7 separate regions of the Homo sapiens genome follow, and regions 1, 2, 4, 5, 6 and 7 are each reported to be linked to region 3. The links are microRNA targets in miRTarBase. Many come from high-throughput screens and were not tested one by one. Region 3 holds a microRNA gene; each other region holds the end of a gene's coding sequence. Distances are between the middles of the regions.

Region 1 (4,089 bases), 52 Mb from region 3:
CCAGTTATTAACTCATCTAGTATTGCACACCAAGCTGGACTAGAAACATGGCTGTAGATGCAAATATAAGCTGGCTACAATACCACCTCTTTAAAGGAAACCTATGTGTCCAAGGCATGAACCAGGCATGGGCACGGATCAAAAGCCAAGCTGGGATGAACAAGGAGTTGCTTTGTCCCTGGCTGATATGAGATGGGCATCACCAACCAGATGCCACTCTACCCAGGTCAGGGACAGTCCACAATGTCTTCTGGGACTGAGAGGTCTCACCCTTGATACAAGGTAGAATGGCTCGCTGCTGGATGGCAGAGGGCTTCTCAAAACCATACGCGTAGATGCCACGGAGAAGGGACTCCGAGAGGTTCATGTCATCAAAGCTGTCAACAATCTCATTCCAGTTACTCTAGGGGATGCAAAGAAATTAAAGCTTGAGTCATGGAAAAGGTGGAGCTGAGCTGTAGTCTCCGAGCAAACAGAATCTGGTGCCTACTAACAAAAGCCTCAGAGCTTACAACCCTCCTCCCTTTAGGGAAACCAGCTGCTTCTAGATGATCTGGGAAATCAATCAAGAGGCCACTCTAACTCTATACGGCTGAAAGTTGTAATGGGGGAGGACAGAATTCCATTTCTCCAGTCTCACCTCGATGACGCCTTCGGGCTCCATCCCATCGGGGCCATTGTCTCTGGATCTGTTGGTTTAAAGCATAAGTTTTGTCCCCTGCCCGACCGAAGCACTCAGAAATCCTGACAGCCGGGCTCTGTCAGGAGTGGCCTGCATGATGCCATCAATCTGCTGTCCCAGATCCAACTCCCACCAGCTCCCAAAAAATACCCAAAGGAGGAGTTTCTATAAAACTGAGGCATTTGCCCCATGCAGGCAGCGGCTCAGGCCAGGCCACCCCCGACATAAGGGGGTGACCCTTTCTGAAGACAGGCCGGCAGGCGTGCCGCCGCGCTCACGGTGCCCAGAGGTGGTGCTTGCCGCCGGGTCCACGTGGGCCCGACCCAGCCGCTTAAAGCCCAAGCGCGTGCACCTCCCACCGCAGCACCAGCGCGCTGGAAGTCCCGCCCTTCACCTCCCAGATCGGAGGGTAGGACATCCCCTTCCCCCCACGTCATCCCGCCCGCGCCCTCCCCCACTCCCTCCAGCCGAAGCCCCCCCCTCGCGTTGCCCGGATGTGGGAGGCCGCGGGCGGTGGCGGCCTCGCGCACAATGAGCCCAAGCCGAGCTAGCAAAGGGGGAGATTGCACAACACTTAGAAGCGAAGCAGACTGGGGGAGGGGAACGCCTCAGGCCACCATGTGCTCGCTCCCTCGACCACCCGGCGGCGTCTCCCACCCCTCCATGAACAATCCACATCCCGCCCGCCCCCGTCGCGAAGTAGCGTCGCCCTCCCATACCTCAGGCCGCTCACCCCCGAAGGAAGGTGGACCTGCCCATCCGCAGTTTGCCAATAGCCCGGCTTGTGCGGCAAAATGGACCCGCCCGCCCGGCGCCGGGTGGGCTCCTGGTGCCTCACGCGGCCGCTCCTCGGGGTTAGGCTCAGTCCTGGCCGTCAAGAAAACCAGCACACTGAACGGCCGGTTTCTTCTCCCCGACCCGTGTTTTAGCCGCGACGAAGTGACTGGATCTAAGGACCAGGCACCCCCGCCTCTCGCGAGTGGTACCGTCAGAATGCTCCGGAACCCCGCGCGCCGTCCCTCCCCCGGCACAGGGAGGCAACCGGACCTGCCGGCTCTGGGCCACACATAGTGGCGGCCGCCTCCACCTTTCTTTCCCACGCCAGGTCGCGACCCCGTCTCGCCACTCAGCGCCGGGGCTTCGCGCATGGCACCGCCTCGGGTCGAGGCCTCGTAACAGACCTCGCACGCCTGACCCTAGCCGGGCTGTCCCTACCCTCCGCCTCGACCTGGTGGCCGCGTCGGCCGTGGGTCTTCCCCCTCGCCCCTCCAAGTCGGACCCTCCCCCCACCCGGTTCGGTTTCTCCCGCAACCCTGGTGGGCCTCTCAGCTACCCCCGGCGGGCCCGTCGGAAGGGGGCGGCAAAATAAGCAGCCACAATCTCTTGCAAATGCCTTTCTTACCGGGAATCCTGGCTCGCAGACATGATCCTTAGAAACTAGGGCGGAGTGCCCGCCTATCGACAACTTATAGAGCGCCCGACTCCGCCCCGGCCATCGCATTGGTTTGGCCGCCCCGGCCCCGCCTGCCGGCGCTCAGCAACTCGGCATGACGTTAGTTCCTAGTCGCTCCGGCCCGCAGGCACCATTGGATAACTCGAGTGCCTATCAAGGTGAAGGCCCGCCCCGCAGCCTCATTGGCTGGAGGGCCCGCCTTTCTCGCCGGTACGGAAGTGACATAGAAGAGTCAGGCCTCGAGGCCTGGCAGCCATCTTGGGGCCCTGCACTCTCACACGTGCGGAGGCGACAGTGCCTTGGTCATGTGGCTCCGTAGGCCCTATCACGCAAGGGGGGCGAGGTCTCAGCCTCCAGAGGCTTCCGGGCTCTGGGGGTTATCACTTCCCTTTACTTCTGCTCCCGGTCTCCACTGGACTCAAATGTTATTTGTTTTCCCCTGTAGCAGAGATGGATTCGACACTGCCTGGACGTGTGCCAGGGATGAAGGAATCAACAGCGATATCGTAGGGATGGGAGGATTCCCCTGGCTGGATGGTGGAGGGATGGAAGAAAACTGTAAAGGGCTTTGGGGTACTATCATGAATCCTGGTTGGTCCCCTCCCCAGTCCCTTGTGTCCAGTTCCCCAGCTTCCCTCTCGGATGCCCTTATTCTTGAGGCTTATCTACTTTCCCTCCTTCCTGCTCTCTGCTCCCATCTCGGGGATTTGTTTGGGTGAAGACAAGGTGTTGGCAGTGCCTGAGCCAGGGATGGAAAGCTGAACCCTTTAGTCTCAAGAGACTGGCTGGAAGGTCTGAGCTAAGCATATCCACTAATTTGAAGCCCCTTAAGGAAGACCACCACTTACGTATCAACAAAGGATCCTTTATTGACCAGAGCAGGACCGTGGCATTTATATATTTTTATATATATATATATATATATATATATATATATATATATATATATATATATATATATATATATATATATATAAAAGTTTGAAGATCTGGCAGGCAGTGATCCTATTGTCCGCCCACCACCCCCAGCACTGATTTCCTGCTCCCTGCACGGGGAAGGGGGAGGATGACTGCTCCACCCAGGCCACAGGGCCACACTCCCCTGCAAACAGAGGAAGAAAGGGGCTTTTCTGTAGCCACCCCCTGCACATCAGAAATCAACAAGTATTCTCTCAAAGAAAAAAAAATACAGAAATTGAAACATTTAAATATGAAAAACCAAAGGGAAGTGAGTGGGAAGAGGCAAGAGAGGAAAGGAACTGGAGTTTCTTGGGAAGGGACTCCCATGTCTCCCTTCCCATTTATGGGCTTGGGGTCTGGGGTACGAGGCTCACACAGTGAGTTTGCAGTGACACAGCTCCTTGTAGATCTGCCGACGAAGTTTGGGCATGTCCTGCTGGGTGAAGCTGAATGGCTGAGACAGGGCCAGATGCTTGCAGTACTGGGTGTTAACAAAGCAAGCCATGAGAAACCCCCCGTGTCAGGACCTGTGCTACACATTTCATATGAGATGTGTCTCCATCCTTCAGAGAACATCCCCAAAGGGAGCCAGGGTCCCACAGCCTGGGGTTCAAAAACAGCCTGACTCTAAAGCTAGTGTTCTTACTTGATAGAATGTTTTAGATGGAGAAAATACACTGAGTTGGAGGTTAGCAGGGAGCTCTATGAAGGCCAGAGGCCCAAGACTAGAGACCCAGTCCCAATGTGGGATGGAGAAGTCCAGAAGAGAACCAGTGAAGCCAGTGTTTTGGTGTTCTAAAACAGATTACTTCCTGCTCCACAACTGACTATGAGCCAAATGAGGGGATGCATAACAGCCTCCCGACCCTTTAACCCAACTGACTTCAGAGCTAGGGGAGGTGGCCCCATCATCTGCTTACCTGCAACACAAAAGCACCACAGTCACTGTCATTATTCTGCCTGGCCACATTCTAGAGAAGAGAAAGAAAGCAGG
Region 2 (4,092 bases), not on the chromosome of region 3:
TGTGGCACCTGCAGCAGCCAGGTCTGCCCTCGGTGGGGGGTGGGGGGGGGGGAGGCGGGGCTCTGCAGGCCGGGCTGGGGCTGCCTCCAGGGAGAGGACCCTGGAGGCTGGGGACAAGCCTGGGGGAGACAAACCAGTACTTTCTACCACATACCCTGGTGTGCTTTTAATCCTTGTATGACATGCACATTACTTAAGATTTGAAAAGCTGGTTGGAGGCCAGGCACGGTGGCTCACACCTGTAATCCCAGCACTTTGGGAGGCCAAAGCAAGCGGATCACTTGAGGTCAGTGAGATTGAGACCAGCCTGGCCAACATGGTGCAACCCCATCTCTACTAAAAATACAAAAATTAGCCAAGTGTGATGGCACGTGCCTGTAATCCCAGCTACTTGGGAATCTGAGGCATGAGAATTGTTTGAACCGGGGAGGCGGAGGTTGCAGTGAGCGGAGATCGCACCATTGCACTCCAGCCTAGATGACAGAACGAAACTCCATTTCAAAAAAAAAAAAAAAAAAAGTCTGGTTGGAGACACTATATATAGCTAGACCCCTATTTCTGCTGGTACGTATATGCACCCACACACATGCACACAGCACACAGCACACATGGAGGGGCTGGGAGGGAAGCATCCAACTGTTCACATTGGGATTGTGGGAGTGAGGGGACTGGTGGGTAACACTGAGGTTTTATATCGTTTTAAGTTATTTAAGCTTTTACTAGCCTGTAACAACTGAAAAAGTGTGTTTTACACCCTAAAGGTGCAGCTGAGGACCTGTGCCCATGCCTGGCCCCCAGGGACTATTCTCAGAGCTCACCCGCGGTGTGAGCCTGGGGCAAGTTTCCAGACCCAACACACCAGGCTCTGGCCTCAGGCCTGCCTCCCAGCAGCCTCTGCCCCCACCCTGCCCACCACCAGTCTGAAGGAAGAGGCGCGGAGTCGTGGGGAAAACATCCACTTTAAGCTTTATTACAACACATTGTCTCCAAATACAAAGGGAGGGGCCGGGAGCAGAAGGTGCGGCTGTGGCGGGAGGGGCTCCAAGGGGGGCTGAAGGGCCGGCAGCCCAGTCTACAGAGACTGGAGGCTCAGCGGGGGACCTGCACCCTCTCCTCCGCTGGACTTCCCAGCAAATAACAGGAGGGGCCGGGTCCATTTTGGGGCGATCCCAATGCCAGGCAGTGGCCAGGTGGGAGGGGCCGGAGAGAGGCTTGGAGAGGACTCAGGGCTGGGTCAGGTGAAAGCCACCAGGTGGGGCCCTGGCCCGCCTCCCGCAGCACTGGAGGAGGCAGTGGCCAGGTGGGAGGGGCCGGAGAGAGGCTTGGAGAGGACTCAGGGCTGGGTCAGGTGAAAGCCACCAGGTGGGGCCTCAGCCCGCCTCCTGCAGCACTGGAGGAGGCAGTGGCCAACACAGGACCTTCGCCCCCCTGCTGGCTGCTCACTTTGCGGTAACCAGTGCCTCAAGAGTGGGAGCAGAGACAGACTGAGACAGACAGCCCCCCTCAACGGCCTGCAGAAGGGACAAGGGGAAGGGGGAAGGGAGAAGGGGGCCCAACCAGTGGCCCCAGACCACTGTCTCCCGGACAGCACAGGGGTGGGGGGCGAGAAGCGGGAAGCCAGTGCATCCTCCTCACCCAGGGTCTCCTCAGAAACCCAACGCAACAGACATATGGGAGGCAAATTTACATAATTAATAATAATTAACCAATAATAATAAATACTTAAACCTCTAATCCATAGATTGCAAATACAACGATAGCTTATTTTCTTGGGGGAACAGGAGTGGGTGGGGACAGAGGGAACGGGAACAGGACTTTTGCTGAAAGGAGGGATGACAGGAACACAGAGCTGTGGGTGAAAAGAAGAACAAATAGAAGAAACAGCAGAGAGGGCGGCTGGCTGGGGCGGGATGGGCGCCTCCCTGGCCCTGCTCCAGGACTCAGGACTGGGTCCTGCCCTGGGCTGCCTCTCCGGCCAAGCCCCTGGCCTCTTCCCACAGTGACTGGCCCCACTCCTAGACCCTAGGACATCTGAAGGGCAGGGGTCCCAATGGCCCGAGGGGGTATGGGGCAGGGGCAGCAGGCTGACCCACCTGGGCCCAAAAGCCACTTGTGTTTGGGGGCTGGCATGCCACCTAGAGAGAGAGCACCCTGGGAAAGGGGTGAATGGGAGTTTCTCTCCTGAGCGGCCCCATGGGGGTGGGGGCAAACGAGGGGGCTTTACCTGTCTTGAGGCAGTGCTCCCTAAGTGAAGCAGGCCTATCCCAGCAGCACAGGGGCTTGGCTGGCGCCTGAACTCCCTGTGTGAGCAGCACCTGCTCACAGAGCCCCTCAGCCTGCAGGTGCACACCTGAATTCCAAGTTCTGCCTGGGGCATGGCTGGGAGGGGGGCGGGGCAGACCTGGAACAGAACCCTAAGACCACCCCCTCCTCATACCTGGGGGTCCAGGGCTTCCTGCCCAGTGGAGCCAGCACTGGCTAGCCAGGCGCCTCCTGCCTGACCCCCGGAGGCCAAGCTCCTCTCCTGCAATGGTGCCACCCTGCCCGGCAGGCAGCTCTGGGGGCATGGGCAAGGGAGAAGGGAGGGCCGCAGCCCTCTAGGAATGGCCTTTCTGAGCCACTCTGTGGCTGGACTGGGGCTCTGGCAGGAGTTGGGGGCACTAACACCTCTGTCCTCCCCTGGGCTGCACCTCATCTGACGTTCCAGAACCCCCTGCCCGAAGCCCCTACACACACTGTTCTATTTCTCAGCCCCTCTGAACACCCTGGCACCATGAAGCCCAATGCCTGTCCTCCCCTGCCAGAGAACAGCTCTGGGGCAACGGGCAGCGGGGTGCCCTCCTTGCCACCAAGATTTGGTGCCTGGAGCTGATGGAGGGCTGGCCGCACCTCTCCGGGGCACACCAGCTCCTGCTCCTCCATCCTATGGCTTTGGTGCAGAGCCCTAGGCCGGCGCAGAGAAGGGAGGGAGCAGGGGAGGTGGGTGGGGGGAGAAGGGGGGTTCTGCGGCTCAGTTTGTGGCAAAGAAGTTTTTTTTTCCTTTTTTTCACCTTTTTGTTATGTAAAAAGTGCACGAAAGCTCGGCAGCCTTTGCAAAGGTCAGCAGTGTTTCCTGGGGCGGGGGAACTGGGAGGGGCCCCAGGCCTGGCACCCAGCTTGCGACTGAAGGTGGCCTCGTATTGCTTAGAAACGTATGTTTCAGTTTAAATACCAGACAGTAAAAATAGAGCTCGAGGACCACCCGCACTGTTGCCAAATCATTGCCAGAATGAACAGCTTAAATAAATAAAAAATCGAAATATTTACTTCTCGATAAAAATCCCAGTAAAACCATTTACCTTTCTTTGCATTATATATAATATACATTTATAACGGGCCTGGCTGCGGGCGGCGGGGCCGAGGGCAGCGGAGGGGTCAGGACACCTCGATGACCTCCACGCTGCCCGAGAAGCTCGCCTGCTTGCCCAGGGCGGCCAGCTCCTCGCCGCGCGCGCGCCCCTCCACCATGCCCTCCTCGAACTCCATCTGGCAGCTGCGGCGCTTGAACTGCGTCTCCGGGGCCGGCTCCTCGGGCCAGCCGGTCCGCGCGTCCCGGGGCTCAGCCCTCGCTGCCTCCCGCCGCCGCAGGTCGCTGCCGCCGCCTGGTCCCGGGGCGCCCGCCCGGCCGAAGGGCGCAAACAGCACCCCGCCCGCCCCCTGTGCGCCCTCGGGGCTGAAGCACCAGGGCCCGTCGGGCGACGGCGTGCCTGGGGAGTCGAGCGGCGGTGCCCAGGCCCCGGGGCCGGCCGGCTGGCCAGGGCCGGGCAGCCCGGGCGCCGACAGGGCCGAGAGGCCGTGCCGCGGAGTCTGCCGGGCCGCATCGCCGAAGTTCAGGCCGAGGCTGTGCGCGGGGGAGCGCGCGGGGGAGCCGGCGGGGGGCCGGGGCCGCCGGCGGGGCCGTGGGCGCGCCTCAGGCGCGGCGTCCGGGCTGTCCGGGCTGGGCGAGGACAGGCCCAGCGCGGCCCCCGACGGGCTGTCCAGCTTGCAGAGCTTCGGGGCCTCGCCGGGGTCGGGGGGCCCGGGGCCGTCGGGCCGCCTGCTAGGGGCGTAGGC
Region 3 (4,000 bases):
CACGCCTGCAATCCCAGCACTTTGGCAGGCCAAGGCGGGCTGATCACTTGAGCCCAGGAATTTTAGACCACCCTGGGCAATATGGAGAAACCTCATCTCTACAAAAAATAGAAAAATTAGCCGGACATGGTGGCGCATGTCTGTAGTCCCAGCTACTCAGGAGACTAAGGTGAAAAGATCATCTGAGCCTGGGAAGTTGTGGCTGCAGTGAGTTGTGATCATGCCTCTGTACTCTAGCCTGGGCAACAGAGTGAGACTCTGTCTCAAAAAAAAAAGAGAATTTCATCCATTTCTGTATTTGTATCCATTTCTGTATCCCCAGTGCTTCATACAGTAGGATTTAATATATGCAGGGTGATGAGGGAGGTTAAGTGACTTGCTCAATGCCACACTGAAAATTTAGCACAAAGCCAGGTCTGGAGCAGAGGTGGCTTGACCCTCATTCAAGGCTTTTCAAATGGTGCCACAGACTCTCCTCAGCAGGGCCCCACACTGTCTTCCCATTACAGTGATGACACTGTAGGAAACTATGTGCCCTATCTGGCTTGATCACCTTGTAACCTATGGTGGGAACCTGTGGGTGCTAGACGGCTGGGGCTGAAGTCTGGCCTATGGAATAGAATTCTCACCAGGGTGTCAATTAAGACCTTGTCAATTAGCACAGTGCCTCAACCCCTACACTCTTCATACAAGCCACCATGCTGGTTTGAGATTCCTCTTGAAATCACAGAAACCTATTTCTCCAACACCCATTTCACAACAGTCATTCTAATCATCTTACCTAGGGTTAAGTAAACCAGTCCAAGGGCCTAATTGGGCCTTTCACCTGTTTTGCAAATAAAGTTTTTCTGGAAAACATCCATGCTCATTTGTTTATATATTCTCTGTGGCTGCAGATTTGAGTGGAGACCCTATGTCCAGCAAAGCGTAAAATACTATCTGGCCTTTATAGAAAAAGTTTTGCAGACCTTTGGATCTAGCCCAAAAAACAGGGAATCAAGACTGCAAACAGCCCCTCCCTTCTACCAAGGGACTGGCTGCCCCTACTCTGGAAGTTAGTGAACCAACTGGCTTTTGAATGAAGTCATTTCTTTTTTTAGCCCTGGTTACAGGCCTGGGATCCAGGAGGAGATTTTGCCTGTCAGAGGCACACAGGGACCTGCAACACCTAGCACATGGCCTGGCACATAATGGCACTCAATTAATGTTTACTGAATAAATAAACAAAGACATGAGAAATCAGCCAGGCTGAGCCTCGAACAAAAGTCCATACTCCTCCTGTCAGTTTCAAGGTGGCCAGTCACACAGGTACCTGGCAGCAGCCGGGTGACCTAGATTTGTCAGACCTTATCTTATTGGCTTTCCTTTCTCGTGTATTTACCCAGCACCTGCCCCCACGATGCTCAGAGCAGGTTGGCCTCTTGTTTTTATAGAGAAAGAGATGGACAGGGAGGAACTCTCCTCCCACACAGACACACTTTGTGTTTTTTCTTTTTTTCTCCCGCTGCGGGAAGAATCAAGAAATATGGGGGCTTCGAGCTTCAAAAAGCTCCATGAAGTCTAGTTTCACTGGCTTCCTCTCTCCTCAGGCTTCCTAGGTGAATGTTTCTGGCATGAACCTTAACGGCCCTCTCAGAGTTGTACCTGTCGTTTGGAACATTTGGCATCTGAAGGGGAAAGGCCAGCTGTGGATAAAGCTGGCAGCTTTCAGAAGGTCAGGAATGTAAACAAAGCAGCCCCCACCCAGTGGGGAGAGGCCTGGTCCTGAGAATACAGACATTCCTCCAAAGATGCATCAGAGAACAAGGGGCTGCCCGACTCGGCTGGGCTAGCTCAGGCCGACTCTGCAGGGGAGGACAGGGACCATCAGGGAAACAAAAGGCACTTCAGCCTCTCATGAAAATTAGGCAAACTGAATGGAAAGCACTATGGAAATGCTGGTTTTTCAGCTGCCCCGGATAACCTTAGGGGCCAGGCTCAGGAAGGAGATCCTTGTTGCTGCTGCCACCAACCGCTTTTTCAGGTGCTGGGTCTTCCAGGAACCAAAGGGTACCGTGTGACAGGCTCAGTGAAGGCAAAGCTTGCATCTGTTTGCCACTGTAATTCCCAGGGTCTAACACGTAAGAGGAGCTCACACAATGTGGAATAAATGACAGGGCCCTCTGCAGGAGGGTTTGCTCAGGGATTTTTTGTTTTGGTGAGGAAACACTTTTCTGTTTCCTCATTTATCTGCTGGGACGCTAAGGTCACAGTTAGCTTCCCAACAGATAAATGAGGAAACAGAAAATTGCTCTTGGTGGAGCCAACCCTAACAAGAAGGAAAAGGAGCTCCTGGGCCCCCAAAGATAGAGAATTTTCCTTTTGATGATCATAATTTACCCCTTCAAAGACCCAAAGGTGTCAGGGGCTAAAGGGGAGGGGAGAACTAGTGCCACCTGCTCCACCTCTTGACATCACTGTAGTCTGGAGGGGAGGGAGTTTATGGACTGATTAGATGTTGTTGTTTCTAGCGGCAGCTGGCAGAGCCATCTCCTCCTCTCTTCCTCTCCCCCTCCTCCTCCAACTCACTGTCCAGCCACCAGCAATAAGCCAGGGAGAGGAGGGAAACAGCTAAAGCTCCCCTTGGCTGGGCAGCCCTTACCCCAGAGATAATACTCTGGGTCACCAGGTCAAACCCTCCTCTCAGCAGCTTTGCTGAGTGCTTTGGAAACAAAGGTTATCAGAGATTCTCTTTTGGTTTTGTTCTTTCAAGATAAAGAAAGTGGTTTCTTTCAAAAGATTCCCCCCCACCCGAAGTGTCACAGAAGGAATCAAACTGACAAGCAACTCTCAGCTCCAGCTTCACTCTCCAGGCCAGGGACTTCTCTTCCAGCCGCCTGGGCTGCTGTGTCACAGCCAACTGAGGTCCTCGGGTGGGTCAGAGGCACAGTAACCACCTGACAGACTAAAAGGGAAGGAGGCAGGGACAGGCTTTTCCATTTACATTCTAGAGAGGCTTCGCTGCTGCCTGCAGGTAAGGCCCCAGAAAGCTGTGGTGGAAGGTGCTGCTGCTATTTCATCACCTCCTGAGACCTGCTGGTCCCCCTGGGATAAGGAACAAGCGATTCCATGAGGAGAGGCCTCAAAAGACGACAGATGACAACTGTAGGGCTCAAGGGCAACTGCTGAGACTCTCCAAAAACAAGGGCAACAAGCAAGAGTGCCAGGCTTGTTGGGGTGCCAGGCCCTAGTTCTGTCACTTTCCATTTGGTTTTCTTTAGTGACTATTCATAGAATAACACTAGCTTCCAACATTTATTGAGCACTTATCACGTGCCAGGCCCTGTGGTAAGAACTTCACATCAATAACCTCATTTAATTTCCACAAAAATCCTATCAGGTATCTAATATTACTATTATTCCCATTTGCCAGTGAGGCCATTAAGACGCAAAGGCGGATGGGCGCAGTGGCTCATACCCGTAATCCCAGCACTTTGGGAGGCCGAGGCCAGTGGATCACCTGAGGTCAGGAGTTCGAGATCAGCCTGGCCAACATGGCGAAACCCCATCTTCTACAAAAAATGAAATAAACAAATAAATAAATAAATAGCCGATGTGGTGGCAGGCACCTGTAATCCAGCTACTTGGGAGGCTGAATAGGAGAATTGCTTCAACTCGGGAGGTGGAGGTTGCAGTGAGCTAAGATCGTGCCATTGCACTCCAGCCTGGGTGATAGAGCGAGACTCTGTCTCAAAAAAAAAAAAAAAAAAAAAAAGACACAGAGGGATTACTTAATGTACACAGCTACTAAATGAATAAGCCAGGTGGTTGGGCTCGGAGTTATACCACGAGCTGCTATGTTATATGGCCTCATATCATCTTATGCTACTACATTAGACTCAGAAGACGCAGGGGGGAAGTAGAAGGAACTTTAAAGACAGTCTAACCTATTGCACTCATTTGGATAAATGAAGAAAAGGGAGAGCCAGAGAGATGAACAGTCTTGCCCAAGATCACAGCG
Region 4 (4,000 bases), not on the chromosome of region 3:
GCCAACAATAAGGGATAATAAAAAAAGAGTTGCAAAACCCAGACATGAGGTTTGGCTAAGTGCCTTCTGATAGTCAAGACTGTTGTTTTCAGCAAAAGAAAGAGAGTTGTTTGGTACACTGTAAAGGCTAAGGATTTAGAGTACAGGGTATATAAACCATATGTGCATAAAATGTGTTTTGACTTTTTAAGTAGTTTTAAAAGACAAGAAGAAATGTAATCTCTAAAATGCCAATAGAAATTGAAACAATAGTCACAACTTCTTAAGCTAAACACAGGCTATTTTCTTGATGTGTGACAGTGGTTAGTGTAGTTTATAGTTTTGTTTTTCAAAGTGTGGCCTGACAGTTTACCTGGGAATTGTGCAGAATATCAGGCCCTACCCTAGACATACTGAATTAGGATCTGTATTTTAGCAAGATCCCAAGTGATTTGTATGCACACTTAAGTTTGAGAAGAAAAGTGTATAGGGCTATATACTGTGTCACTGAAGGGGCAGGCACTAATGGAAATTGCTACTAAGATAGTTGTTACAGACTAGATTTTTACTGGCTCATTATAGTAGAAGGCCATTAAATATATACATATTCTTTTATCGTAGCCAAAGAAGAAGAAAAATATTTCCCATGATACTTTTGGTACAACTTATGGAAGGATTCATATGCAGAAGCAAGACCTAAGCAAACTACAAACCAGGAAAATGAAGGGGTTGAAGAAGCGACCTGCAGAAAGGATAACAGAAGACCACGAGAAAAAGTCAAAAAGAATTAAAAAAAATTGATGGAACTTAGCCAGCCACTACTGTTTCATTGTGTTCTACTTAAGAGAATTATCAAGCGTCAATCCATTCAGAGTTTCTTATAAGATCTTATTATATATTTTTATAACATGATAATTTTACGATATATTATTATGAACAGTAATATACTAGTATTAAGTGTAAAGTAAGCCTTTTATTTGAGACATTACACCCTGGTGTGCCATTTTCTCTTGTGATATCCCCTGCCCTCCACAAATTCTTCTTTCTCATTGGGTGGATGGATGGGTGAGGAGGGATCTCCATAACCATTGGGATTTTTTTGAATTTCTGGCCTTAGCTAAAGAAAGCCACAGAAAGCCGGACCCGCAGGAGCTGTGTAAACAATCTCAGTATGAATTACCTGGAAAGTTAACCTCCTCTCCCAACATGGATCTACATTCTGATTTTTATTTTCTACTTTTATTTTGCCTGAAATCCTACTCGTTGACATTTGAGATTTTAAGCTTTGTGGCTGAAAATATATAGATCTCTGAGAGGGATGTCTGCTATCTGATTATTGATAAATTACACTACTGTTGATTGTTTTAAGAGACTCTACTACTAAGTAGAGCCCACCCCGCTTCTCTGAGACGAAACCTGTGTTTTTTGGTTGGTTTGTTTTTAAGAGATGGGGTCTTGTTCTGTCACCTAGGGTGGAGTGCAGTGGCACAATCACAGCTCACTGCAGCCCTGAACTCCTGGGCTCAAGTAATCCTCCTGCCTGAGCCTCTTACGTAGCTGGGATTACAGGCATGAGCCACTGAGCCCTACTTTTTTTTTTTAAAGCAATGAGGTCTTGCTGTGTTGCCCAGGCTGGACTCAAATTCCTGGGCTCAAGTGATCCTCCCACTTCACCTTCCTGAGCAGCCGGAACTACAGATGTTGGTCCACTGCACCTGGCAGAAAAGAAGTTTTGATAGGGGCAGAAATGAAAAAGGAGAAAACAGGTGAGTTTTAAGGTGCAGGGCACTTTAGGGTACTGGGTAGCCCTAGGTAGCTAAAGGTTGCATGAAGGCCCTGGGCGTTTGCAGATGGTGTAGAAGCCAGCCAAAGCCTAACTACTTGTTTTGAAAGTTTCTTGAAGACAGGCCTTGTGCCTAGGAAAACAGAAGCTTTCTTCTTCCTTCTACTAGTATTGCATACTTGTTTTTCTGGAATAGGGTGTTAAGTTCCTTGATTCAGTCCTTGACAAGGAATCTCCTTTATACAAGTGCCAGTAATGTTGTAAAGGTACAGACATACGCAAATCATAATTTGTTACATGAAGTACCAGTGCTTTCTTTTTTGTTGTTTTTTGAGACAGAGTCTCGCTCTGTCGCTCAGGCTGGAGTGCAGTGGCGCGATTTCAGTTCACTGCAACCTCCACCTCCCAGGTTCAAGCATTCTTCTGCCTCAGCCTCCCGAGTAGCTGGGATTACAGGCACCCACCACCACGCCTGGCTGATTTTTTGTAGAGACAGGGTTTCACTTCAATTCCATGTTAGAGAGCTCCGTGCCTGTGTATACATGCCTTTATGTAAGCTTGCTCAGCTACAGATCAACAATGCTGGCACTAAGCAAAAGTTCGAGCCTCAGCTTTACCTTCTACCCTTTCCCTTCTCTTTTGAATCCATTCCTTAGCTTTCCCTAGTCCTCTCCGGATAGCTGTTACTCTCCTCTTGCCAGAAAAATGAAGGAGCTGGTATCATTTATACTTTTTGTTTGATTATACGTTTAACCAAAGACCATACAGTCTCGTACCTGAATCAGACATTTGCACTTTATATCTAAATGAGAAGAAGGGGCTCAGATAAGTCGTTTGCTGCCATCTGGAGGTAGATGGACAATAGCTGAGAAGGGGAGCCATGAAAAGAACATCAGGAGTGATGGACGCATAGTCCTTCCCCAAAGCCTCGCTCATCACTGGTAGGAGGCAAAGCAGTGGGTCCTCCTCACCAGCCGCTTACGGGACCCTGCCATGCCTGGACCCCTCTATCAGGAAGACCTACCCCAGCACTACTGGAAAATCAGCCAATCTTAACCCAAAGATGGCCATGATTTCTGTATGTGAGACGTCTTAAGGGTGTTTTTGTTTGTTTTAATCAGCCCTCTTGTTTGAGATTTGGCAATACATTTCTGTTTTCTAGGTAATTTCTGTGTCTGATGGTAGAGGATCTAATAAGTATTGGAATGCTTCCTATTTGCTGATAGAAGTACCAAATAGTATTATTGAAGTCTAACAAAGACTTTTTGTTGAGAACACCTTGTAGTGTTGTACTATCTGGAACTCTTGAGCTGCCATTTATATCACTTTTTGTGGAGAGCACATCTTGATTTTCAGTTGTCCTTACTTTAGAATACAACACACATAAATTGGAGACTATGTATTCATTTCAATGGAGGTGGTAAATTGCCTGTTTTAAGTTTTACTTAATGTTGGGTTTTGGTAGATGAGGAAAGCATTTTGGTTATTTGTTTTGTTTTAAATACCAAATTTCTTATATTTTTTCTGGAATATTAATACTATTACCAAGCTATTATTTCATGGAATTTGGGTTTCTTTTTTTTTGTTTTTTTAAAATTAAGTGCTGTTTGTTTTCTTGGTTATTGAACATAATCCAAAGTAGAGATGTTATTACTCAATTCAAGAAAAGAAAGGGCTAATAAAACTTAACTTCAAGTCAGTTTTCATTTATCTGATTAGCTACTTACATGATCTCTCCTTCCTTTCCTTTTTATGTCTAGCTACTTAAGGCTAAAAATGGAAGGCTTCAAAATGGAAGAAGTTAAAACTACTAAACCCATTGCTAAGATCCGAACAACAAAGGAAGGTTTGCTTTTATTGAATTTCAGAAATTGGTGCTTTGTCCACCATAAAATTAAGAGACAGTGCAAAAAATACGAGCTTCATTATGTTTTTAATGCACTTTTACTTAGAAATAGTCAAAACATAACTGCATTTAAGACAAATGCATCCTAGCGTATATACATTATGAAATTGTAGAGAATACTGTTTGATATTCATTGAAAGAAGCTATTCTGAAAAAGAAGATGAAATGGGCTTGCTTACTTGAGGTATATGCTAGCTGTGAAAAGAAAGTCAGCTTGCATTTAGATGTTGTTTGTCTCTCATATCAACAACTCGAGTTGCTCAAGTTTAAAAACAGCAAGGATGTCATTGTGTTTCTCGTATCATTCAGAGTGTGCCAGTTAGACCATGTTA
Region 5 (4,092 bases), not on the chromosome of region 3:
GGAATGAGTTCCTAAGCAAAATAATCACAAATTATCTACACTTGGAAGCCTAATATTTTAGCATTGGAGAGATTCTTCAAGATGGACTAGTCTGTCTCCTTTGTTGTAAGGATAAGGAAACTTGAGACCTAAAGAGATTAAGTGATTCACCTAGGATCAAAAAGTTGACTAACGGTAAAGACAGAAATAAAGTTAATATGCTGCATTTTAAGGGTTAAGGATAAGAAGAGCAAAATAATTCCCGAACTTCAACTTTCCGGCCGGTATCAGTATTTATAGCAGCAATCTGAAGATATTCCTATTCATAAAGAGAATTTAGCTCACACATTAACAAATGAAGGTACTACTGATTCAACACCTTAATAAATGTGCTTAATAAATAGTATTTAATGAAGAATTAGGACAATCTAGAGCTCTGCCCATACATACCTTAGAGAAAGAAATGGTTTCAAGACAATCCCTCTCTTTAAATTTAACTACAAGGCCATTATACTCATTTCAGTGCATAAACCTCATATCTATTATCGTTTCCTCTATTTAAATGTTTTGGCATTTTACAGTGCTTTTGAATCACATCTCTTTCTATTGTATACATCATGATATAAGGTAAATTACTTACTTTCTTTGAAACAGAACAATTCACCATCTAATTGAACCTCAAAATGTTCATTGTAAATCTGATACAAATTTCAAACTGGTCAGGGGACATAAAATGTACTGAAGATCTGATACAAAGCACTCTTATTTAATACAGTAACTCATTTCTGATGATGAGTCAATGGCTTGTTTTAATTCAAGTATTTAAGAAAAAAATATCTAGTCAGTACAGGTAGAGGAAACTGTGTTTAGCCTTTATTCACATTTCAAAACTTTGAATTTGCAAAGAGCAAATTTCTATTACATAAAGGTCCTGGATTTTAAGACTATAAATAAAATAATTCTATGACTTTTAACAACTTTTAAGACATTATTTTTCAAATATAAAAAACTTAAAGTGTCAAAATGAAGTGATTTGGTATGTTCCAGGTTGAAACATTTTCAGGATTTTTTAAATCTTTTATCGTTTTCTTACAAGTAAAACAACTTTATCATGTCATGAAGGTTTAGACCTAGAAAAATATAAGACACAGAAATTTCTTGAATATTTTGATAAAAATGAAAAAAAAACTGAGTTGGTATTTAAATACCAGACTATCAGGGAAAACTAATTTGTTTTATGAATGAGTCTTGAACTTTTCAGAGTATCTCAGTTTCAACTGCTTATGAGAGTTAGTAAGATTTTAAAGTCTCAATAAATTTAAAATTTTTCATACTTATTAATCTGACAATGATAAAAGGGGAAGAGTTATTAGAATTAGCAAATTTAGTTAGCAAAAATGAAAATTAAAACTAAAAGGACAACAGACCGTGAAAAATCCTTCTATCAGGTATTTACAACACAAATAACTCATGCAAATATGTATAGAAACCATTAAGACATTTATTTATATAAATGAACAAAGTATACAGATAAATCACATAAAAGCAAATCAGAAAAACTTTGATTTCTCTCCTATGTTTACTAAATTAGCAACAACATATAAAACCCCTACTCAAATGGTAACACTGTAAAATGTTACAACTCTTTGGGAATGCAATAAGGCAAACATAAGTCATAAAGTTCTTCATATTATTTCACTAAATAATCCCCCTCCCAGGAATTTATCATAATAAAATTTAAAACTACTTAAGTATTCAGCAATAGAGAAATACTCTAAATAAATTAAGAGTATAAAGTAATATAATTAAAATAATCATTATCACAACTACATACATATAGATAATATCAAATGAAAAAGTCAATTTAAAAGTATAGGTGCCTTAAGACTATGTGAACAACAAAAAGGAAAATAGTAATATAAAAATTTAAATTCTAAAGTTACTACATTAAGATGGTAGAGGTAACAGTAATTTTCCCATTTGGCAAAACTTCAGTTTTAAACATAAAAGAAAAAGAGTGGCTATCGTTTTTTAAAAATGGTCAACAATCTCTACTCCTCTATTAGTAAACTCTGTGTCAATTTTTAAGGTGAAAAATACAGCAGAAATACCTCTGATGTGTTCTAAAACCTAAGTATTTCTCTATTTGGACTTTAATTTGCAATGGAAGAGGACATATTGTAACCTGTACCAGTCCAACAGGCAGATGTAGCCACTGCCACCTTTGGTTGACACACACTGTGGGGCACTAGATATGAACAGGTAAAACTGTAAATTTTCATTTTATGACTTTGTGTGTTTGATATTTTATGTTAATGCATCATGGTATTAACACTCTTTTTCCTTACAGTTTTGTCTCATACTAAGAATTGTTTTAGTGTTTTCATTTAAAATATGTTGCCAATATGTTGAAAATGCTGTACTGATGCATATATAACATTTTACATTGAGTTTAAATTGGGTTAAGCACAAATAAAACCACTTTAGTTTACATATTTTAAATTTCAGAGTTAGAGACTACAAAGCAGGAAAACACCTTTAAAAAGAAAGGCAAAGCATAAACATCTAAAAACTTGTATTTTATGAAATTTCTCATGAGTCTTCCTTTTGAAACTGTATTTGAGTAAAGGAAGAGGGATCTGAATGTTTCTACAGACTGGCTGCATAATATATTGCTTTCCCATAACAAAAATATGAAGCACTCATTATATATGAAGTTTACTATTACAATGTGGCTACATTTAAAAAATTATGGTAAAGAGGGATAGGGAACTTTCAGAAAGCTATCTGAATGAAAATGTTTGAGAAGAACTGTTTTTAAATATTTAGAGCAGAAGAGATTAGCTGGAAATGCAGGGCAGCCATCTCAACATCTGTAAGTATCTCTTGAAAGAGCAAACTAAAGAGACAATGTCACAGGGAACACCCTACAGAGAAATATAAATAAATGCTAAAGAATAAAGTTTTTAGTTGAAGACACATTCTTTAAATTTTAAAAATTATGTTACTTAATAACTTGGTACAAAGTGCTTGACCATGTTGACATTACCATGAAAATATCTCATAGCTGCCAAAATACAAAACTATAGGAGCTGTCTTCTGCTCTAATGGTAGGAAGGTGACTTTAATTAAGTATTAGTCTTCTATTTACAACCTGTTAGTGGTAGCAGTAATAATTTGGTTCATTTACAAATATTATCAAAGCTTATTCATTTCCAAGATCTAAACAAACACAGGTATTACTAGATGATGGCCATTTTATCAAAGAAATGTTTTTAATAATAAACTCTCCAAAACAGAAGAAAGAGATCAATAATGGCCACTTTAAACAATTTAAAGAATTTCAATAAAATGAAGCCACCAGGAAGCCTAAATAAAGTAAAAATAACACTAAATTATGGTCATTTTTGTGAAACTAAAGAAACATGGAGCTCATACTTTTTTCTTTGATTAGGAAATTTGTTCAACTTTTTCACAAGACTGAAGACAGATCAAATTCAGAAAGTTAATTTTTCTGAATCCAATCATATTCATATTTTCACAATACAAAAAATCCTAAAACATTTCACAACACAACAAACAACTGAGCCAACTGCAAGGCCATTTATAATGCATAGAAAATAAATTATGTGCTATTGAAACTGTAAATGATAGACATTTTTCTTCATGCAAAAAAAAAAAAGACATATTGTTTGTCTTTTGAATGCAGCTTGTCATTCTGCATCTGCACACAGGATTCAAATGTCAACTAGAAAATGATGATATTCCCAGGCCAATCTCAACACGTCTTAATTACATCATCTTCTCTCTTTGGCTCATTTAGAGTTATATATTCACAGCTCAAAACCTGTTCATTAGACTCAGGTTTTGATTTTTTAAGTGCCAACTCTGCTGGGAAAAGAGATGAGCAATGCTCAAGAGACTGTGCAATGTCATCAATTGTCCATTTGTCTTCAGGAAGGGCATGTTCTTCTAGCGTAAATGGTCCCTGTTTGGTTCGGGTCAGCTCTAGCACATTGGCACAGGAAGATAGTTCTATGGCAACAAAAGGTAGAAAAAAAATCCAGAAGATAAACGATTCAGTATTTCATAGTCTGTAATTGTTCAAATGAC
Region 6 (4,092 bases), not on the chromosome of region 3:
ATGTGTGTTTCTGTGTATGTCCAAGTGCTATACTGCTACTCCAACTGACCTGGCTGGCATTAATCCTTTGGGTCCTTTGCTTTCTTTTCAGGTGAGCCTTCCAGATGGTCACCCTCACACTGCGATTGCTGCTGCAAGAATGGCAAAGGTGACAAAGAAGGGGAGAGCGGCACGTCTTGCAATGACCTCTCCACATCTAGCTGCGACAGCCAGTCTGAGGCCAGCTCTCCCCAGGAGACGGTCATCTGTGGTCCCGTGACACGCCAGACCAACATCCAGACTCTGGACCGTCCCATCAAGAAGGGCCCTGTCCAGCTGATCCAACAGTCAGAGATGCGGCGGAAAAGCGACTTACTCCGGACTCTGACTTCAGGCTCCAGGGAATCGAACATGAGCAGCAAAAAAAAAGCTGTTAAAGAAAAGCTCTCAATTGAGGAGGAGCTGGAGAAATGTATCCAGGATTTCCTAAAAATCAAAATTCCAGATCGGTTTCCTGAGAGAAAACATCCTTGGCAATCTGAACTTTTAAGGAAGTATCATCTATAAGGGAGGGCTGGGGGCGGGAAAAGAAAAAAAAAAGTCATTTTGAAATTAACCTCCTAAAAGGAATTCATATTTTAAAGGAAAAAAATACAACTAATGATGCACATTTCTTAGAACACAATAGTCCATTGATATACTACTGCCTACTTTACCTAGTTCACCTTAACATGTAAATCCACAGGGTAGATTTCTTTCTAGATGTGGAAGTACAAGAAAATCTTTTTTAGTTATTTGTTTGTTTACTTCGTCCCATGTGCTAACTATCTTATATATAATGAGAGCCAGCTACGTAAAAGTAGCTGAGAGGCCTTGGGAGTCATTTATCCCAAACTGGGTTTTTTCTCTCATCCTTCTACCTCCCTCCTTTGAATGAGGGTATGGTAGAAAAAGATCTGGCCCAATGGCATAAGTTTGGAATTTTTAATTTTGGTTTTTCCTTTTGTTTATGGGGTTGGGGGGAATGGCAGATTTATATGACTTTTCACTCAAATCTATATGTGCCAGTTTATATTGACTCCGTATGCATGAGTATTTGTGCAACACAAGCACAACTAAGTATGTATATACACATGACGCACACGATGCCAGGGCCTAGACCTCCCAAGGGCTGTGCTCCTGCTCCCAGCAGCCCTCTCTTAGAATATTTCAGATGGATGAGCTTCTGACTCTTTCTTAAAATTCTTTTGGGAAGATTTCCCAGCCTTTCTTCACAACACTTTCTAACATCAAATGACTCTCATCATCAACAAATTGTATTCCTTATTGTGAAATTAATACCCTCAGGCTCCATTTTACTGCTTTGCTCTTTGTCTGCATTAAGAGAGGATGAGGAGAGCTGGTCAAACATTCCTTGTGTTAAAAAAATCAAACATTCATATCCACAAAATTTTCTGCTAAATGACTCCACACTCAGCCTTCTCTACCCTGAACTGAATTATCACCCTTTTCTCCATGTTTTCAGAGTTCTTACTGCCCACAGTTTAATGGTGTGGCCTTTCCACATAATCCACATTAAGTTCTGTGTTCCTGTGTTGTTGTGGAACTAAGGACAACACACAGTACTTGAATAAGGGTCCGGCCTTTTGTTTGTTTTAGAGAAAGTTGTATTCCACACACAACCTAATAATTTCTTATAAAAATTTTAAACTACAAAGCTACATTTTTACTTGCTTGTAGCCGTTTTTGTTTGCCTTTGGGATTCGGGCTTTGGCTGTGCCCATGCTAGGATTTAGCTGTGTCATTTTTATGATGTCTGTAACAACCCAACAAGGTAACTGAAGCTCCAGAGTTAAGGTTTCAGATTTCTAAATGAAACTATCTTTTTCAATTACATCCTGACTTGTATAGACACAGCCAAAAAGAAACTGTTAATAGCCATCCGTCCATGTAACTCTGTATTTTACTAAGGTACCAATAGCTCTTTCATAGACTTGTGCTACAAGAAGGTTAAAAGACCAGTTTTATTTTCAGCATTCCTCATGCATTTCAGTGGTAACCAAAAAATAATTTGTCAATTAATAGTTGTGTGCCAAGCACTCCTAATTTGTTTTATTGCGTGTGTGTGCATGTGTGTATGTGTATCACAGGTAATAAAGGCAATTGGATGATATCTGTAGGAGGAAAACAATGACTAATTTCTTCCTTTTGAAATCTTTCATTGATGCACATTTATTATGTAAGATGTTCTGTCTTGATTTCTGTTCTTAGTGATGATTAGTATATGAATATCTTTCTGAATTTTTGTAATTCTCGCCTTCACACTAGGATGACAGACTCAGCTAATGTTTCCTTGTCCTGAAGGTTTGAATGGAGTTGAAAGTTTTACATAAGTGAAAAAGAAAGTTTATCTTGGGAGTTGAGTTGTCAAGAGAATTATAATTTATGAATTTAAGTGGTATTCTTTTCTGTATTAATATATTAGCAGATATTTGGTCTTAACTACAACATAGCTTTGTTTGTAAACTTACCAGTATGTCTTGATTCTTTTCAATGTTTCTTGATAGCACATGGCAATACCATCATCCTAATAACAGAAGATCTTGCAAAGAATCACAGAGCTTAATGGGTCAAGAAGTTGAATTTGGGGAAAATATCCTGAAACTCACTTTGGTCAAATGATTATTGTGTTGTCACTGGAAGTACTGTCAAAGACTTTGGGGGTCTAACTAAAATGGCCAAAGTTCCAACTTCCTTAAATTTCAGACCTGACTGTAATGGCCTCAAGATAGAGAGATACCCTTATAAGAGTAAAGAATTAAGATGATAGTCAACCCAATATTTCTACTACATTCTTTAAACAGGAAATTAAACACTGCAAAAGGAGTGTTCGTGGCAGTGTTCCTCTGACCCCTGACCTGTCATGAGTTTTCTCTGCTCTGACATTCCTTATACATCCAGTGAACAAAGCTGGAATAGAAAACCTGTTTAAAACCATCACAACAGCAATATTTTTATTCTGGGCCACCTCTCGACTGGCACTCATCCCATGGTAAAATATTCAAGTAACTAAGACAACAGCATGGCATTTATTTGTGTGAGTGTTTATATAGAAATGAACATAGACCTGGCCAGTAAAAGGCTCTGAGGAGGCTTAAAGTACCTAGTTTGAGTGGAGTTATCAAGTGAGGTCCAGGTAGCCTGCAACACTGGAAATGAGTTCTGGGTAAGTGAGTTATAAGAGTACATGCTCTAGTAACTCTGGTAGTCACTGTGACTCGGGCATGTTTCCCTGAAGTTAAAATAGTTTTTAGAACTTTTTGTTTAATTCTGAAGAAAACAATATATATGGTTTACTTCTCGAACATTGGTTATGACAAGGGCCATAAATTGCTAATATAAAGAAGTTAGTAGTATTGAGTGGATACAATGAATGGGGAATCACATGTGTAGAGCCCCAACTTAGATTGCCTTCTGGGAAATCCCGCGATACTAAAATCCAGTGAGCTTTGGGAGATCATTCCCTAAAGGTATGTGGGTTGTCTGAAGTCAGAAACATATTTACAAAGTCCTTCTACCCACTATCAAAAATGAACTGATCTGCATTCAGCAGGAAAAGGGGAAGACAGGAATGTAAAACTACTAGATCATATGGTATTGTGATTTTCTTTCCCCTGCTAGGAAAAAATTGCACTGAAATGCTGACAAAAAATAATGAAATGAAGTGGCTTCCAAAATATGCACTGATGTTATCCTTTGTATTTATAGGCACAGTTATCTTACTGAAAATGCATGCATGGTGAATTAAAATAAAAGGGGGAACAATGCACAAATAATAAGCGTTCCCTTTGCTCTTTATTCCTTTATAGTTGTATCTATTCCAACCAATTCATTTTGGGGGAACACATTTATTAAGGGATGTTGACATGGAATTTTTCTCTTTTCAATTAGCCTTGTTAGATTCAGAGGAATCTTTATCCATAGGCACAGGTGTGTTGCTTGTTCTGGGCCCCATTACTGCCTGCGCTTCTGGATTACTTTTGCTTTCCTGGGCTTTAGATTCTTCTCTGAGGATCCTTTGTTGGTGTCAGACAAAACATGTTACAATGAGAC
Region 7 (4,092 bases), not on the chromosome of region 3:
TTTTTCTTGATAGCTAAGTTGTCTAGAATATATAAATTCCATACACCAAGAAATATCAGAATATAGTATTCTCTAGTAGTCCTTGGTTATCCTGAGTTTTGGTGATGCCTTGTTGGTTTACATCATTACTTCTTAATTACCTGGCGGTCTGGTTGAAATACAAGTTCTGGACCCAGAGGTCTTGGGTGGAGCTTGGACTTTGCATTCTAAAAAGCGTTCATGGATATGGCAGCTTCTAGTCAAAGGACTGCACATTGAATGTCAAGGACTGCAGTCGCTCCCTCCGTATGCTTTAGGATTTTCCTGAGATCCATAGCTCTCTTTCCCTCCCTTCTTCCAGGTGTGTGTTGGGAAACACTACCATCCTTGCTGAGTTTGCCACTGATGATGAAGTCAGCCGCTTTCTGGCACAAGCTCAGCCCCCTACACCTGCAGCAACCCCAAGTGCGCCAGCTGCGGGGTGGCAGTCGCTGGAGACCGGCCAGAACCAGTCAGATCCCGTGGGACCTGCTCTGAATCTTTTTGGTGGGTCCACTGGGCTCGGGCAGTGGAGCAGCAGCGCTGGTGGCAGCAGCGGGGCCGATCTTGCTGGCGCTTCATTGTGGGGGCCCCCAAACTATTCTTCTAGCTTATGGGGAGTCCCAACGGTGGAAGATCCCCATAGGATGGGCAGCCCTGCTCCTTTACTACCTGGTGACCTTCTGGGAGGAGGGTCGGATTCAATCTGAACTTAGAACTTTCAACTCTGACCTCGTGACCTTTTTTGGAACAGCAGCAGCACTAACTTGACCTTTTCGTTTTTTTTTTCAACTTGCAATAAATACATTTTTAAAAGGAAAAAAGAAAACGGAGAGAAAAAAAGGTGGGTCATTGACAGACTGTCTGAGCACATAGTTGCCTCCCTTATAACTTCAGTTTTTTCGTTTGGAATATGAATCCAAAAAGAGAACATATCACTCTTGAAATACTTGAATCATGAACGCCAACCTAGAAAGACAATGTGAAGCAAGTACACATACCATTTAAATTTAAACACAAAAAAATTAAAAAAATTAGTTTCTAGTTTTTCACTTTTTTCATGTTATATGGAAGTTGTTGCTAAGAAACATATATACTGAAAAAAAATAGCTTTTTAACTTTGTTTGCACTGGGTGTGTTTCCGTCCTTAGGTCTACCATGTTTGGGAGGGAGGGAAATTCAAAAGAATTGTTGGGGGAGGGGGGAGGGAAGACTTGACGGAGCCTCACTTTAAAAACAAAAACACAAAAAACCTAAAAAAAAAAAAAAGGAAAAAATTTGTGATTGGCTGGTTGATAAATACCAGTGTGTTCTGGCACATGTAACTGCCCAGGCATGCTCGTTCTGGTGTGTGTGTGCACGTGTGTTCATGTGCATTCGCGTGCATCCTTCTCTGTCTCTGTGTGTGTGCCTGTGTTCTTCCCTTCTCCCCTGCCCCACCCTGACTTCTCAGAAAGCTGCATCGCTGACAGTCTGCAGGCTGGCTGGCCGGCCCATCTGCTTTTTATTTTATTTTTTTAACTATGAGAACACACAGGCCCGGAGAGCCACTGCTACTAAAGCAACTCCATTGGGCTGCATTAAGATGAACAGAGTGCTTTTTAATGATGAAAGCAGGGAGCTCCTTTCCATTTGCAACTTAGCCTGAATGTGGGGTTTCTCTGGCTGTTCTTTTGACCTAGCAGTAGAGTGGAGCACTGCCAAGTCCAAAAAACTAGAGCAGGAGGTACCTCTTGGAGCAACGGTGTGTTTATTTCTGTTTTTTTTTTTTTTTAAGTGAATGGCCACCAGGCACATCTGAGTATCTGTTAAGTTTCATGCAGGCCTTTTCGTTAGTTTGAAATGGGAACGGAAGATAACTTTTGATGATGCGATGTCTCAAAAACAGAGAAACTTTGTTCCCTCTTTCCTTATGATCAGGTTTGAGAAATTCTTCAAAAAATTAGGTGAAGTTGAGTTACATATTTCTGTTGGTTGGTTCTCTTTTTCATTTTATGAAAACAGAAAAGAATAAGTGGTGAGCAGCCTCCTGAAAGCATCTGCAGCTACTCCCTCTGCTCCTTTCTCGCCGAGCGTTACCTGTGCCAGGCCGTGGCGCGTTACAGCACCAGGCCATCACTGACAGAAACGTTTACTTAACGAATGTTCTTAAACCAGTGTGTACTTCAAGCGTTTCCTTTTGTTTCTCTGTGTTGTGTATTTCCTGTGTATGTGGTTTTGCTTAGGCAGGTATAACTTAGCGAAGACTTTTAAGTATTGCACCTTTTTTTGATTTTTGACCTCTTCCCCCCACCTTGTAATTTTGCTTTTTTAATTTCGGTATTTAAATACTTTTTTTTTTTTTTAAGCATCAATGTAGTAGTACTCTGGGCCGAACAGGGGTCAACGTTTAATCTACAGTTATCACCAACATGTATGTACTTATGTCGGAATCAAAATGTATCAAACTGCTTATTGTGAAGAGAATTATAGCAGACCTGAAGGGGGCGAAAAACCAGATAGGGTGGGGGGATGGATGCCGGTGACGTGCTAGCACTTGTGTGGACATCCCAGTCTGCATTATGCTGTTTAACATAAAGTGCCGACATTTTGTACCAGCAAATACCTGCCCATTCCAACCCTTGGTGGGAGCAGACCTCTACTGTCCTCTGTAACTTGCTGCTATTGAGGACAAGGGAGTTTTTCTTTCTTTAGCGTCTTCAGTGAAGGATACAATACAACAATGCCTAATGTATTTGACTTTTTAGCTTGTGTCTGTGTGTAGGTGGGTGGGTGGGTGTGTATAGGAAAAGCCTAAAACAAGTTATTTGCATTTCAGTGGTTTTGTGAGACAAAGAATGGGAAATTCTGTAGCCCTTCTGGCTTACCCTGTTGATTATAAACCTAGCCTCAAAAGAGATTGACAGGCATGACTCAAGTGAGTGTTCACATATACAAGCCTGCATGAGCCCTCTGTGGGTAGGTGGTCACACTTGGCATCTGCAGCATTGACGTGGCCCCGCTGGGTGCCTTGAGCATGCCCTCTTCCTGCTCTGCAATTTGAATCACCACCGTGCCCCTTCCACCACTGTTCCCCATGCAAAAGCTCTGCTTCCAGCAGCCCCCACTGACCGCTCTCTGTGTGGAGCAAAGTGCTGTCGTGCGGTGACCACCAGGTGAAGAGCAGCTTGTATTCAGACATCTAGAGAAGGTTAAATCTTAGTGTCCCTGGGCCAGGAGCATATCCCAAGGCTCCTGCGAGCCAGTGGCGACCCTGTCCACTGCCGCTCTTGGTTCACTGCTGTGTCCTGCCCCACCCTCCTCTCCTCCTGCCTGTTGGTTCCTTGACCTGCACTATGGGTTAGTTGAGTTCCTTACGATACTACGGTGAAAGCCGGGTGCTAGAGCCCCTCTTGTTTACAAGACATAATGAGGGATTTGAAATATGTAAAAATAAACATGAGAAGCTAAAATGTTCTTCCATCATAAGCTTAAAGGGAAAAAAACTAAAAACTTTAAAAAAAAAAGACCAAAAAGTGCGTATATATATACATATAAATATATATTTTAGATGAAGACTAACTCTGGGAGCATTTAACAGTGTTTTTTGTTTCTGTTTTTAACATTTGTTTTCCTGCTTTAAAATTTGCAAGCATTCTCAGGAATTCTAGGGTAGGAAGCCAGTTTTTTGAAGATGGTTTATTTAACCATATCTTATCCTAGAGAGATGGCTGTTTCTTTCCTGTTAATAAACTTTTACAAGTTCCTGAAACTTCAGAAAGTTTAAACAATTTTTACTTAAAAAAATGTAAAAAGAAAAGTCTCCAAACATTATTGTCATACTGGGGATCACACATTTTAAAACACATAGAAATATTTTTTAAAAATTATCAATTTAGCAGCAACAGGTAAATTCATTATCTTAAAAATATGGGAGAAGGATTAAGCTTTGTAAGAGCTCGATCATGGATTCTTTTGAAATTGTGTGTAGTTTAATGGGAGAGTGTTTGGTGTATATAGATGAGAATGCCATCACTTTGTTCCTTTCCATTTGAGACTGAACTGAAATCTCCCCTAGTAATTTTTATTTTTTTA

What was found. The annotated mature microRNA hsa-miR-4729 reads UCAUUUAUCUGUUGGGAAGCUA and lies in region 3 at 2,254-2,275, opposite strand. An mRNA with a match to its seed (bases 2 to 7 or 8) in the 3' UTR can be bound and repressed. Matches are read on the target gene's strand: a 7mer-m8 pairs with bases 2 to 8, a 7mer-A1 pairs with bases 2 to 7 and ends in A, and an 8mer does both.
Region 1: miRTarBase lists SENP3 as a target of hsa-miR-4729. Seed matches in the 3' UTR shown: 7mer-m8 at 3,434-3,440 and 7mer-m8 at 3,026-3,032.
Region 2: the mRNA of DUSP8 is a reported target of hsa-miR-4729. Seed matches in the 3' UTR shown: 7mer-m8 at 3,364-3,370.
Region 4: the mRNA of RPF2 is a reported target of hsa-miR-4729. Seed matches in the 3' UTR shown: 7mer-A1 at 2,566-2,572.
Region 5: miRTarBase lists TRUB1 as a target of hsa-miR-4729. Seed matches in the 3' UTR shown: 7mer-m8 at 3,581-3,587, 7mer-A1 at 3,162-3,168, 7mer-A1 at 2,363-2,369 and 7mer-m8 at 1,478-1,484.
Region 6: the mRNA of KCTD16 is a reported target of hsa-miR-4729. Seed matches in the 3' UTR shown: 7mer-A1 at 1,438-1,444 and 7mer-A1 at 1,849-1,855.
Region 7: miRTarBase lists TNRC6B as a target of hsa-miR-4729. The part of its 3' UTR that is shown has no 7-base or 8-base seed match.

Annotation. Positions count from the first base shown.
Region 1 is chr17:7,570,860-7,574,948 of GRCh38, reverse strand. SENP3 (SUMO specific peptidase 3) reads right to left here. Exons shown (of 11, transcript NM_015670.6): 10 at 4,016-4,066; 11 at 2,980-3,576. The coding sequence ends at 3,466. It overlaps EIF4A1 (eukaryotic translation initiation factor 4A1), which reads right to left and starts at 2,124. Exons shown (of 11, transcript NM_001416.4): 1 at 2,085-2,124; 2 at 641-689; 3 at 271-403. The coding sequence starts at 2,107. SENP3-EIF4A1 (SENP3-EIF4A1 readthrough (NMD candidate)) reads right to left here. Exons shown (of 22, transcript NR_037926.1): 10 at 4,016-4,066; 11 at 3,470-3,576; 12 at 2,085-2,665; 13 at 641-689; 14 at 271-403. It overlaps SNORA48 (small nucleolar RNA, H/ACA box 48), which reads right to left and starts at 236; the gene lies at 102-236. RefSeq lists enhancers at 767-896, 359-1,114, 1,115-1,870, 2,377-2,446, 2,567-2,626 and 2 more and silencers at 1,037-1,176, 2,077-2,136, 2,147-2,206.
Region 2 is chr11:1,553,104-1,557,195 of GRCh38, forward strand. DUSP8 (dual specificity phosphatase 8) reads right to left here. Exons shown (of 7, transcript NM_004420.3): 7 at 948-4,092. The coding sequence ends at 3,415. It overlaps LOC124902608, which reads right to left and starts at 2,377. Exons shown (of 2, transcript XM_047427956.1): 1 at 1,846-2,377; 2 at 1,504-1,577. The coding sequence starts at 2,377. The coding sequence ends at 1,504. RefSeq lists an enhancer at 2,264-3,061.
Region 3 is chr17:59,364,367-59,368,366 of GRCh38, reverse strand. It overlaps MIR4729 (microRNA 4729), which reads right to left and starts at 2,284; the gene lies at 2,213-2,284. All of the region lies in intron 2 of YPEL2 (yippee like 2), which reads right to left. RefSeq lists a silencer at 325-619 and enhancers at 1,176-1,945, 1,946-2,715.
Region 4 is chr6:111,024,803-111,028,802 of GRCh38, forward strand. It overlaps RPF2 (ribosome production factor 2 homolog), which reads left to right. Exons shown (of 10, transcript NM_032194.3): 10 at 601-3,461. The coding sequence ends at 780. Among named protein-coding and RNA genes, the nearest start is that of RPF2, 45 kb to the left of the region's middle.
Region 5 is chr10:114,975,045-114,979,136 of GRCh38, reverse strand. TRUB1 (TruB pseudouridine synthase family member 1) reads right to left here. Exons shown (of 8, transcript NM_139169.5): 8 at 1,461-4,014. The coding sequence ends at 3,758. Among named protein-coding and RNA genes, the nearest start is that of LINC02626, 18 kb to the left of the region's middle.
Region 6 is chr5:144,473,569-144,477,660 of GRCh38, forward strand. KCTD16 (potassium channel tetramerization domain containing 16) reads left to right here. Exons shown (of 4, transcript NM_020768.4): 4 at 92-4,092. The coding sequence ends at 546. Among named protein-coding and RNA genes, the nearest start is that of KCTD16, 300 kb to the left of the region's middle.
Region 7 is chr22:40,322,514-40,326,605 of GRCh38, forward strand. TNRC6B (trinucleotide repeat containing adaptor 6B) reads left to right here. Exons shown (of 23, transcript NM_001162501.2): 23 at 341-4,092. The coding sequence ends at 728. Among named protein-coding and RNA genes, the nearest start is that of ADSL, 22 kb to the right of the region's middle.